Linked DNA regions of Homo sapiens: regions 1 and 3 are each linked to region 2. The links come from fine-mapping of genetic effects on gene expression. A gene starts in region 2. Each other region holds a variant in brackets. All regions are shown on one strand. Distances are between the middles of the regions.

The links. PIP is the estimated chance that this variant, and not a neighbour inherited with it, causes the effect.
Region 1: its variant is the best candidate, but not a certain one, in a credible set for the expression of USP15 in whole blood (INTERVAL, PIP 0.65).
Region 3: its variant is the best candidate, but not a certain one, in a credible set for the expression of USP15 in whole blood (TOPMed, PIP 0.68).

The regions. Positions count from the first base shown.
Region 1 is chr12:62,201,620-62,205,773 of GRCh38, reverse strand. It overlaps a transcript of TAFA2 not described here. Among named protein-coding and RNA genes, the nearest start is that of TAFA2, 11 kb to the right of the region's middle. The variant G/A (reference allele first, on the strand shown) is at 2,493.
Region 2 is chr12:62,257,967-62,261,966 of GRCh38, reverse strand. It overlaps USP15 (ubiquitin specific peptidase 15), which reads right to left and starts at 1,563. Exons shown (of 22, transcript NM_001252078.2): 1 at 1,464-1,563. The coding sequence starts at 1,552. MIR6125 (microRNA 6125) reads right to left here and starts at 1,608; the gene lies at 1,513-1,608. It also overlaps a transcript of TAFA2 not described here. RefSeq lists enhancers at 1-334, 1,058-1,107, 1,328-1,687, 2,238-2,307 and silencers at 1,728-1,837, 1,918-1,977.
Region 3 is chr12:62,224,544-62,228,697 of GRCh38, reverse strand. It overlaps a transcript of TAFA2 not described here. Among named protein-coding and RNA genes, the nearest start is that of MIR6125, 34 kb to the left of the region's middle. The variant A/G (reference allele first, on the strand shown) is at 2,200.

The DNA.
Region 1 (4,154 bases), 56 kb after region 2:
GTTTGCAGGGGGAGGGGCAACCATTGTCACTGTGGCTTCCTGGAAGGGCAGCAGTCATTATGGCCACTCCAGTCTGCTGTGTTTCCCCTGCTGATGCCAGGGAAACTGGGCGGTTTGGACCCAGGAGGAATTCCCCACAGTGCAGCACAGTGGCTGTGGCAGATCATGGCCAGACTCCCTCTTTAGGCTGGACCCTGACCCATCCCTCCTCACTGGGTGGGGCCTCCCTGGGGAATTTCAGCAATTCCAGCCAGGGGTTTACAAACAGAACTCTGATATCACTGGGATGGAACTGCTGAGGGGAGGAGTGGCCAAAGTCTCTCTGGGTCAGCAGACTTAGTCTTTCTCCCTGTTGGCTCTGAGGAATCCAGGCAGTCTGGATGAGTGAGATTTCCCCCTGTGCAGTGCACCCCCTCTGCCAAAGGGCAGCCAGAGTGCTTTATTAAGTGGGTTCCTGATCCTGTGCCTCTTGACTGGGTGAGACCCCCCCAAGAGTGGTCACCAGACACCTTACACAGGAGCATTCCCACTGGCATTATATCAGTGCCCCTCTGGGACAGAACTTCCAGAGGAAGGAGCAGGCAGCCATCTTTGCTATTGTGCAGCCTCCACTGGTGATACCTACAGGTGCAGGAGGGACCCAGGTGAAGGGGTCTTGAGTAGACCCCCAGCAAACTGCAGCAGCCCATGGAAAAGGGGCCTGACTGTTAAAAGAAAAACAAACAGAAAACAACAACAACCACAGCATCAACAAAATGTCCCCATAAAAACCCATCCAAAGGTGAGCAGTCTCAAAGTTGAAGCTAAATAAACTCATGAAGATGAGAAAGAATCAATGAAAACATGCTGAAGACTCAAAAAGCCAGAATACCTCTTCTCCTCCAAATGATCATAGCACCTCCCCAGCAAGGGCATAGAACTGGGTGGAAGCTGAGATGAATGAATTGACAGAAGTAGGCTTCAGAAAGTGGGTAATAATGAACTTCACTGAGCTAAAGGAGCATGTTCTAACCCAATGTAAAGAATCTGAGAACCATGATAAAACATGACAGAATAACTGGTTATTCTCTGGTTAGAGAGGAACATAAATGACCTGATGGAGCTGAAAAACACAGCACAAGAACTTCACATTGCAACCACAAGTATCAATAGCCAACTAGACCAAGCAGACGAAAAAATTTCAGAGCTTAAAGACTATCTTGTGGAAATAACACAGGCAGACAATATTAGAGAAAAAAAGAATAAAAAGTAATGAACAAAACCTCCGAGAACTATGGGCTTATGTAAAAAGACTGAACCTACAACTGATTGCACTACCTGAAAGAGACAAGGGGATTGGAAAACATACTTTGGGTTATCATCCAGGAGAACATTCCCAACTTAGCAAGACAGGCCAACATTCAAATTCACGAAATCCAGAGAACACCAGTAAGATACTCCATGAGGAGATCAACCCCAAGACACATAATCATCAGATTCTCCAAGGTCGAAATGAAGGAAAAAATGTTAAGGGCAGCCAGAGAGAAAGGCCAGGTCACCTACAAAGGCAAGTTCGTCAGACTCACTGTGGACTTCTCCTGAGAAACCCAACAAGCCAGAAGAGATTGGGGGCCAATATTCAACATTCTTAAAAAAAAAAGAATTTCCAACCCAGAATTTCATATCTGGCCAAACTAAGCTTCATGAGCAAAGGAGAAATAAGATCCTTTCCAGGCAAGCAAATGCTGAGGGAATTTGCCACCACCAGGCCTGCCTTGCAAGAGCTCCTGAAGGAAGCACTAAATGTGGAAAAGAAAAACCATTACCAGCCACTACAAAACCACACTGAAGTACAAAGACCAAAGACACTATGAGGCAACTACATCAACAAGTCTGCAAAATAGCCAGCTAGCATCATGATGACAGTATCAAATTCACATAAAACAGCATTAACCTTAAACGTAAATGGGCTAAATGCCCCAATTAAAAAACACAGAATGGCAAGCTGGGTAAAGAGTCAAGACCCATTGGTATGTTGTATTCAAGAGACTGAGCTCATGGGCGAAGACACACATAGGCTCAAAATAAAGGGATGGAGGAGAATTTCCCAAGCAAATGGAAAGCCAAAAAAAGCAGGGGTTGCAATCCTAGTTTCTGACAAAACAGACTTTAAACCAATGAAGATTAAAAAAAGACAAGGGCATTACATAATGGTAAAGAGTTAAATTCAACAAGAAGAGCTAACTGTCCTAAATATATAGGCACCCAATACAGGAGGACCCAGATTCATAAAACAAATTCTTAGAGACCTACATAGAGACTTAGATGCCCACACAATAATAGTGGGAGACTTTAACACCCCACTGTCAATATTAGACAGATGATCGAGACAGAAAATTAACAAGGATATTCAGGACTTGAACTCAGCTCTGGATCAAGTGGACCTGATAAATATCTACAGAACTCTCCACCCAAAAACAACAGAATATACGTTATTCTTGGCGCCACATGGC[G/A]CTTACTCTAAACTTAATCACATAATTGGAAGTAAAACACTCCTCAGCAAATGCAAAAGAACCAAAATCATAACAAACAGTCTCTCAGACCACAGCACAATCAAATTAGAGCTCAAGACTTAAGAAACCCCCTCAGAACCACATAACTACATGTAAGATGGGTGTGGTGGCTCATGCCTGTAATCTCAGCACTTTGGGAGGCTGAGGTGGGTGAATCACTTGAGGTCAGGAGTTCAAGACGAGCCTGGTCAACATGATGAAACCGTGTCTCTACTAGAAATACAAAAATTAGCTGGGCATGTTGGCATGTGCCTTTAGTCCCAGCTACAAAGGAGGCTGAGGTATGAGAATTACTTGAGCCAGGGGGTGGAGGTTGCAGTGAGCTGCGATTGCACCACTGCACTCTAGCCTGGGTGACAGAGCAAGACTGTCTAAAAAAAAAAAAAAAAAAAAAAAAAAAGAACCACACAGCTACATGTAAATTGAACAACTTGCTCGTGAATGACTCCTGGGTAAATAATGAAATTAAGGCAGAAATCAAGAAGTTCTTAGAAACCAATCAGAACAAAGAGACAAAGTACCAGGATCTCTGGGATGCAGTTAAAGCAGTATTAAGAGGGAAATTTATAACACTAAATGCCACATCAAAAAGCTAGAAAGGACCGGGCACAGTGGCTCACGCCTGTAATCCCAGCACTTTGGGAGGCCAAAGCAGGTGGATCATCTGAGGTCAGGAGTTTGAGACCAGTCTGTCCACCTCTACTAAAAATACAAAAATTAGCTGGGCATGGTGGTGGGTGCCCAGCTACTAGGGAGGCTGAGGCGAGAGAATCACTTGAACTGGGAGGCAGAAGTTGCAGTGAGCCAAGATCGTATCATTGCACTCCAGCCTGGGCCACAGAGCGAGACTCTGTCTCAAAAAGAAAAAAAAAAAACTAGAAAGATCTCAAATCTAACATCACAATTAATAGAACTAGAAAACCAAGGGCAAACAAACCCCAAAGCTAGCAGAAGACAAGAAATAACCAAGATCACAGTAGAAATGAAGTAGATAGGGATATGAAAAACCCTTAAAAAATCAGCTAATCCAGGAGCTTGTTTTTTGAAAAAAATTAATAAAATAGACTGTTAGCTAAACTCATAAAGGAGAAAAGAGAGAAGAATAAAATAGACACAATAAAAAATCATAAAGGGGATATCATCATTGACCCCACAGAAATACAAACAGCCGTCAGAGAATACTATAAACACATCTATGCAAATAAACTAGAAAATCTGGAAGAAATAAATAAATTCCTGGACACATACAACCTCTGAAGACTGAATCTGAAAGAATTTGAATCCCTAAATAGACCAATAAAAGGTTATGAAATTGAGGCAATAATAAATAGCCTACCAACCAAAAAAAGCCTAGGACCAGACAGATTTGCAGCTGAATTCTACCAGAGGTACGAAGAGGCACTGGTACCATTTCTTCTGAAACTATTCCAGACAATTGAAAAGGAGAGACCCCTCCCAACTCATCTTTTGAGGCCAGCATCATCCTGATACCAGAACCTTGCAGCAATACAGCAACAGCAACAACAACAACAAAGTTCAGGCCAATGTCCCTGATGAACATCAATGCAAAAATCCTCAACTGGCAAATCAAATGCAGCAGCA
Region 2 (4,000 bases):
TGCCAGGCCAACAATAACTATTATTAAGTCACTTGAAGATTCTATTTTTTTGATATAATGAAACAAGTATGTATTTACATCCTTAGGGATTTCTATCATACAAACATAGTATATAGCCTACCAAAAAAGAAAAAAGAGACTAAGACTTAGATCAAGGTTAAATTAAGGTCCTAAGTCTGCCACCTATTAGCTTAACTGAAAATGATCCCAATATCACAGCCTTTTGTCAGGAGTAAAGAGCAGAGATAAGAGGATAACTAAAATTTGATATCTCATAAATATGAAATTCTTAAGATATTAAAACGAATCAAGATAAAATCCTTATAATAAAATTACTGTCCATTTTACAGCATGAAGATAATGAGGTGCAATGATTTAAATTAACTCTCCTCAAAGCCATACTGCAAGTTGAGTGGTGAAACTGTGACATAACTCAGGTCTAAATCTTACTGTTCCTTTCACTATGCCATACTGAAACACTCTATGAATTATATACTACTGTTATGGTAACAGTGGAAAGTGAAAATATGTTTTATTATAATGAAGAGGCACATTATGCTTCCCAAAAAATAAGGAATTTTAAATTATGTTACATATTCACATATTTAAGTTATTGTAGATGCCACTTGATATGGTCGACAAGTGTGAAAATGTCCACATACATCCTTCAGTATTTTAAATGTATAACCTTTGGTATTTTACAAGTTTGAATATTAGCAGTTAGTTAAGCCTCAAGTGGACTTATCTACTTTTTGCAGGCCTACATTATCTTTCAAACAGAAGGGAAGGGCTGCACGTCTAACAGAAACGCTGCCGGCTTCTATCAAGCCACCACTAAAGCACAAGACCACGTGGTCTCTCATAAGCCCAAGGTTCCCTACTCCTCTCCCTCCTTTGACAAGGAACTGGAAACTAGGGTTTCTTTCTCTTATGTGGAGCCCTGACATGCCACCTGTGTAGTACAGACCGCAAACATCCTGCAGCCTGCCTCCCGGAAGACCAAGAATCAGAATAAAAGGGAACTTGGACGCCGACAATTCTAGGAAAGGAAATGAACAGAGAAGTAAAGCCGGTGAGATCGTGATAAGCCGCGGCACCGGGACCTGTCAAAACGGCGTATATAAGACTCAAACCAAACCACTATAACCTATCATTCGGGAAGGCCTGAGGTGGGAGCGGCACTACGGAAGGAAGGAGGACGAAGAGAACCGCACGAGTCAGAACCGCCGCCGCCGCCGCTCCCCGGATACCTTTCAGCATGCCCTGGCAAGCCAAGAACCCTGACCCTCATCTAGAGTCCAACCTTTGCCCCAACATTTCAGAAGCGGCCAAAATCCCGCTGCCCCGGCGGCCGCCGCCGGACCTGCCCGCACCTGTCACTAGCGAAAGAACCAGCTCGCGGCTCCCGCCCACTTCTCCACTATCCTCGGGCAACCGCGGGCATCTCAACCCCTTTCTCTTACCAGGTGTCCCCTTTCCGGAGCGAGGTTTTGAGCAGCGTCGCGATGTCAGACCGCTGGGTGTCCAGATCCGCCGCTCCGCCTTCCGCCATCTTCTTCCACTAGCGGTAGGGGAGGTGGCAGCGACGGCGGCGGCACGCCCCAGAGCATTATGGGAATGGCGTCCCACGGCCCCTCCCAGTCGGCCGGTCGAAACCAAAAGACACCGGGAGCGGGGGTGCTCCTCGGGACAAGAGGAGGCCCCGGGGGCGCACTGGGTGCGCGGCCATGGTCTGCTGCCCCCCATCGGTCCCCGCCCGTCCAGCATCTTGCCTTGGCCTCCTCTGGCCCGGGACTGCCGGGTTTTAGCTTTCCTCGCCGCCGAGGGCTCTGGCTCTCTCTCGCTAGAGGGATGCCACCGCCCTGTCCTCCCGTCCTCAGCGTTGCCTTCCCCTCCCTCTTTCCCACTGACGCCTTGAAAACCCTTATTTGCGCATTCACTCACGCTTGAGGGTGAGGTAGGGTGGGGCGGTGGTGTGGGGGCGTGGGGACGGCTAAGATATGGCAGAAAATGTAGCAGCTCAGTGACTGGGCTTTTCGTTACGAGTGGGAGAACCCAAGCTCGGTGAATATGGGCACACACAAAAAACACTCCGAAACCGAACGCTTGGTCTCCATGCCCTTCCTGGGTTCCTTCCAGCGCTCTTACTCCCGTTGTAGGTGGGGACCCTTTATAGGCTCTTTGTGACGCCTCCCCAGGCACACCCAGACGACTAAGCTGCAGTGAAAAACATGTCCCAGTTCATCGGTGAACAGGGAGTAGAATATGGACAGTATTGAATAATGCCAGATACTAAAGGAAGAAAACGTGCGAGAAACCCTCTTGTTTATACAGGATAGTAACATTTTCTTAGCCCCATCTTCGTATGGTGCCGTACACCTGAAATGAAACTAGATATGTCTTTAATTTGAAGTCAACGATTATGTTACAAAATAGAAAATCGAGTCGCTTAAAAATCAAATGCCAAGGTCACACAGCAGGTGGAGAGGTGAGTGGAGAGGCTGGTTCAAGAGCCCACATGCTATACAGTATAGCACACTCACTGCCTCTCCTTCTGAAAGCCTGAACTAAAATGTAAACTCTTTAAGAGCTGGAACTGGGTTCATCTTTTGTTTTAGCCTTTGTACACCTGGTGGTTAGCACAGTACTGATGGACATGTAAAAATTACCTAAATATTTGTTTAGTAAATGAATTGTGGCAAAATTACTTAAGTATTCCCGAGCATGATGTCCAGGGGTGTGATTTTAACATACCATATTGATGTGAAAAGTCTAAAAGATGGGCCGGAATCCCCACATCATTTCTCGTTTGCCCATTTTAAACCCTAACTCATTTGGTGAGAATGCGATAAAGGTAGGTGTAGTTATGCTAGTAGGAAGTGCTGAATCCAAGTGAAAGTAGTGTATATTGGCATTATGATTTGTGTATATCAGTATTATGATTATGATTGCTTATTTCTGCGTAATAATACTATTTTGCATTATCATGCCAACCTTGAATTGAGAGTTTTAAAACAACTTTCAGTGACTGCTATTTCTGGCTTTTCTCCTGACAGGTTAAAAGATTAAGAGTTTCTCTAACCACGGCTACCCTCTAAAAGTCACATTTTCCCCCTTTTTCCAGTCACTCTCTGAAAGAGAACAAAGTAATTTTCTGAAGGGAAGCTGCAGAATATGGAAAACATATATTGGAGCTACATGGATGTAAGTTCAAACCTCACTTCAACCTTTAGCTGCAAAGTTCTTGCCCTTTAATTGAATCATAAAATTGAGTATAATAATACCTACCTTAAGGGATTTTTATGAAGATTAAATGAAACAATTTGTGTTTATTGCCTGGGACGTAATAGCCATTCAATAAACACTAGTATTGTTTATTGATGACAGGGTGAATTGTACAGTATGTGAATTATACCTCAATAAAGCTATTGAAAAAAGGTGTTAGGGGCTTTGAAGGCAAAACTGTGCTCTCCTTCATTGTATAAACATAACATAACCAAGTAGCAATAAATCATTTATACCCTAATGTCCACTTTCCCTTAAGAGAAAATGCATTTTTGAAGTGTTGACAGCTACAACCATACAATGAAGTAAAATAATATTTTCTTCACTTGCACCATGCTCAAGGCAGCAGGTTAACTGGATATAGACGTGTAAATTCAATGCCAATTTGAATTATACATCAGATTTATGGAGCCGTTTTGTAGACCTAAGTAACTGCCATCAGAGTCAGGAAAGAGATAAAATTATAGTATTTTATTTAGCAAGCACTTACAGAGTGCCTAGCATGGTTCTAAACACTTTAAAATACTAACTTAATTCTCACAGCAATCACATGATTTTGGTACTATTATTATTTCAAGTCTATAGATAAGGAATTGAGGCAAGTAAGTGGCAGAACCTAAATTGAAACCAGGCAGTCTGGCTGCAGAATCTGGAAAGTTTGGGTAAACTTCAATTTTTCTATTGACCTTTATTATTTTGTTTACAGCAATCAACG
Region 3 (4,154 bases), 33 kb after region 2:
AAAAAATCCTGAACTTAAAAAATAAAGTAGGAGATATCACACTACCTGAGTTCAAAATATACTATAATCAGAGAGGTGCAAATCAAAACTACAGTGAGATACTATCTTATACTAGCCAGAATGGCTATTATAAAAAAGTCAAAAAATAACAGATGTTGGTGAGGTTGCAGAGAAAAGGGAATGCTTATGCACTGTTGGTGGGAAAGCAAATTAGTTTAGCCTCTGTGGAAAGCAGTTTGGAGATTTCTCAAAGAACTGGAAATTGAAATACCATTTGATCCAGCAATTCCATTACTAGGTATATACCCACAGGAAAATAAGTCATTCTACCAAAAAGACACCTGCACTCATATATTTATCACAGCACTATTCACAATAGCAAAGACATGAAATCAACCCAAGCCAAAGCCAAATACTGCATGTTCTGACTTATAAGTGGGAGCTAAACATTCCGTACACATGGACACATAGATGGAAACAATAAACACGAAGGATTCCAAGTGTGGGGAGGGAGGAAGAGGGAAAGGGTTGAAAAACTACCTATCAGGTGCTAAGTTTACTACTTGGGCAACGATAAAAAAATTAAAAATTAAAACAATTATTTCAGAGATAAGTGTGTGTGTATGTACACACGTGTATATATACATGTGTATGTGTATATACAAAGTAAATATATACACTACAAAGCCATAGTAACCAAAACAACATGGCACCCACATAAAAACATATACATAGACCCATGGAACAGAAGAGAGAATCAAGAAATAAATCCACACATTTACAGCCAACTCATTTTTGGAAAAGGCACCAAGAACGTACATTGGGGAAAGGGCAGTCTCTTCAATAAATGATACTGAGAAAACTACAAACCATAAGCAGAAGAATGAAGCTTGAGCCCTCTCACCATATACACAAATAAAATAAAAATGGATTAAATACTTAAGTCTAGGATTGAGACTATGAGAAGAAAACTTTGGGAAACGCTTCAGGACATTGGTCTGGGCAAAGACATTTTGGATAAGACCTCAAAAGCACAGGCAACAAAAGCACAAATAGACAAATGTTATTATATCAAGCTAAAATCTTCTACACAGGAAAGGAAATAATCCACAAAGAGAAAAGACAACCTACAGAATGGGAGGAAATATTGCTCGGTATCTATCCAACAAAGGAGTAATAACCAGAATGCATGAGAAACTCAGCTCAATAGCAAGAAAACAAATAATTTACTTTAAAATGGGCAAAAGATCTGCAGAGCTATTTCTCAAAAAAAGACAAATACCCTTCTGCCAGAGAGTTTGCTGCCCCTGCTTGTCCCATCAGCCAGACACTTTAGTGTATGCATATGTAACTGTACACAGTAGGACTGCATACTTACTCCGACCAGGAAGTTCAGAGCAGGCTTTTTGGGGGATATGATTAACGACTTCTGTCTTGAGAGATAAATAAGGCTTAGCCAAGAAGAAATGTAAGAGTGTAAGAGAGGTTAGAGGGAAAAAATAATGTGATCTGAGGAAGAAACTACCAGAAATTCTACACCACCAGAACACAAAGTGCAAGGTATGGAATAACAAGAAATAAAGTGAGGATAAGGAAAGGGGAATGGATTATGAAGACCTTATGTCATGATACATAGTCTAGGCTTCAGGCTGAAGGAAGTGGGGATTCACTGATGGATTTTAAGCAGGGTGTTCCCATATTGAAATCTGGGTTTCAGATAGACTACCAAGGCTTTGGTGACCTTGATGAGAGCAAGGCTATACACAGCAGGAGAAGTGGTTTAGCTGCTGCAATATGCCAGGCCAAAAAAGATGGGCCTGAACTAAAGCAGCAGTAGCAGGGTTACAGGGGACGGGCCAGATTTGAGAAATGTTTACAAGGGAAAACTGGCACCATTTGATTGTGAGTGAAAAGTAAAGAAGAATAAATTACTAAAGATGACTTCCATATTTTTGCCTTGGGTAACTTGGTGAATAGTAGAGTCATTAATTGATTTTGGAAATATGAGAGGAAGAATGTGTTTGGAGGATGGAAAGTGGGGTAAACTTTCTCTTAGATATTCAGGGTTTGAAGGGCTTGAGTTACACACAGGTTTAAAAGCCTCAAGATAGGTATCAGTATTAAAGATTTGGAGGTGATTAACCTACTGATGGTAGTTAAGGCCCAGAGAGTGGAATGAGATTGCTTAAAAGAGTAATC[A/G]AGGCCGGGTGCGGTGGCTCACGCCTGTAATCCCAGCACTTTGGGAGGCCGAGGAGGGTGGATCGTGAGGTCAGGAGATCGAGACCATCTTGGCTAACACAGTGAAACTCCGTCTCTACTAAAAATACAAAAACAAAATTAGCCAGGCGTGGTGGCGGGTGCCTGTAGTCCCAGCTACTGGGGAGGCAGAGGCGGGAGAATGGCGTGAACCCAGGAGGTGGAGCTTGCAGTGAGCGGAGATCACCCCACTGCACTCCAGCCTGGGCGGCAGAGCGAGACTCCGTCTCAAAAAAAAAAAAAAAAAGAGTAATCAAGAGAAAGATATAGACCAAGACTGGAGTCCTAAAACACAACAGCATTTAAGCAAAGGTACTTACTGGAGAAAGTAAAGAGAGCACACCACTATGAACATCTTAGAAAGAGCCAACAAACAAAACTTCTTGAAGGCAATGGGTATAACCTGAGGGGCAAAACCTAAACACTTTGAGGATGGAGTGCATGTTATGTGAGATCATCTGTAGTGTAAGTTTCTAGATGTGGGAGTACTGCCTCAAAATGCACATACTTTGGAAATTTTTATAAATATTGCCAAATTACCCTCCACAGATTTTAAACCCATTTATACACCAATCAGCAATGTATAAAACTGCCTGTTTCTCTATGCTTTTGCCAAGAATGTGTTATTAAACTTTCTGATCCTTGTCAAACTTACATGTAAAAATTCATATTTTGGGGTATCTTTATACATATTTCTTTTCTTGTGAGAAAGTTTGTGTATCCATATGACTAAGAGTCACTTGTATGTCCTTTTCTATAAAATGTCTCCTTTGATGTTTCTCTGTTTTCCATTTTTTTTCTTTAATATTGATTTGGAGGAATCTTTACTATATAAGGAAAATTAAGCATTTATTTGTATGTTGCAATAGCTTTCTCCAGTTTTTAACTTTGTTGGGTTTTTTTCATGTATTTAAAAAATTAATTTCTAGTAAAATTAATCAGTGCTTTCTTTTATGGCTTTTCAGTTTAGAAGCACGCTTAGAAAGGCTTTTCTGATTTCAAGATTATAACAGTTTTTCTCACATGATTTCTTATAGCTTCTTTATGATTTATTTACATTTGAGTCTGATCAGTCTGGAATTTTTATTGTTATAAGGTGGAAAGTGTGTATCCAATTTCATTATTTCCTGGAGGGATAATTATTGTCCCAACACCATTTGCTAAAGTAGTCATTCTCTACTGACTTGAAGCAACTAAATTCTCATTATATTTGATCAATTTCTGGACATTCTAGTTCATTTCTTCCAGCTGTTTGTCTAATATTGTGCTAGTACCACATTGTCTTAATTAATTGATTAAACTAAGCCCGCCACCATCCCCACCAACTTTTTTTTTTAAATTTTTTTATGAGACGGAGTCTCACTCTGTCGCCCAGGCTGGAGTGCAGTGGTGTGATCTCAGCTCACTGTAACCTCCGCCTCCTGGGTTCAAGTGATTCTCCTGCCTCTGCCTCCTGAGTAGCTGGGATTACAGGCGTGTGGAACTAAGCCCTTTTTAATGCTCTTCTTTTTCAGAAATGTATTGCCCATTACTTATTTTTTAATTTTAATTTTAAAAATCTGCGAAAATGTAAATAACGTAAAATTTACTATTTTATCAATGTTTAAGTATACAGTTGAGTGGCATTAAGTACACTCATTATTGTGCAACCACTGTTACCATCAATTCCTGTTACCAGGACTTTGTTCATCTTCCCAAACTGAAAGTCTGAACCCATTAAACAATAACTCCCCATCCCTCCCTTTCCCCAGCCTCTGGCAACCATTTTATTTTTTGTGTCTATGAATTTTAATACTCCAGTGCTATGGTCTAAATGTTTGTGTCACCCCAAAATTCATATGTTAAGTTTTAATGCTCAATGTGATGGTATTAGGGGGTGAGGCATTTGGGAGGTATAA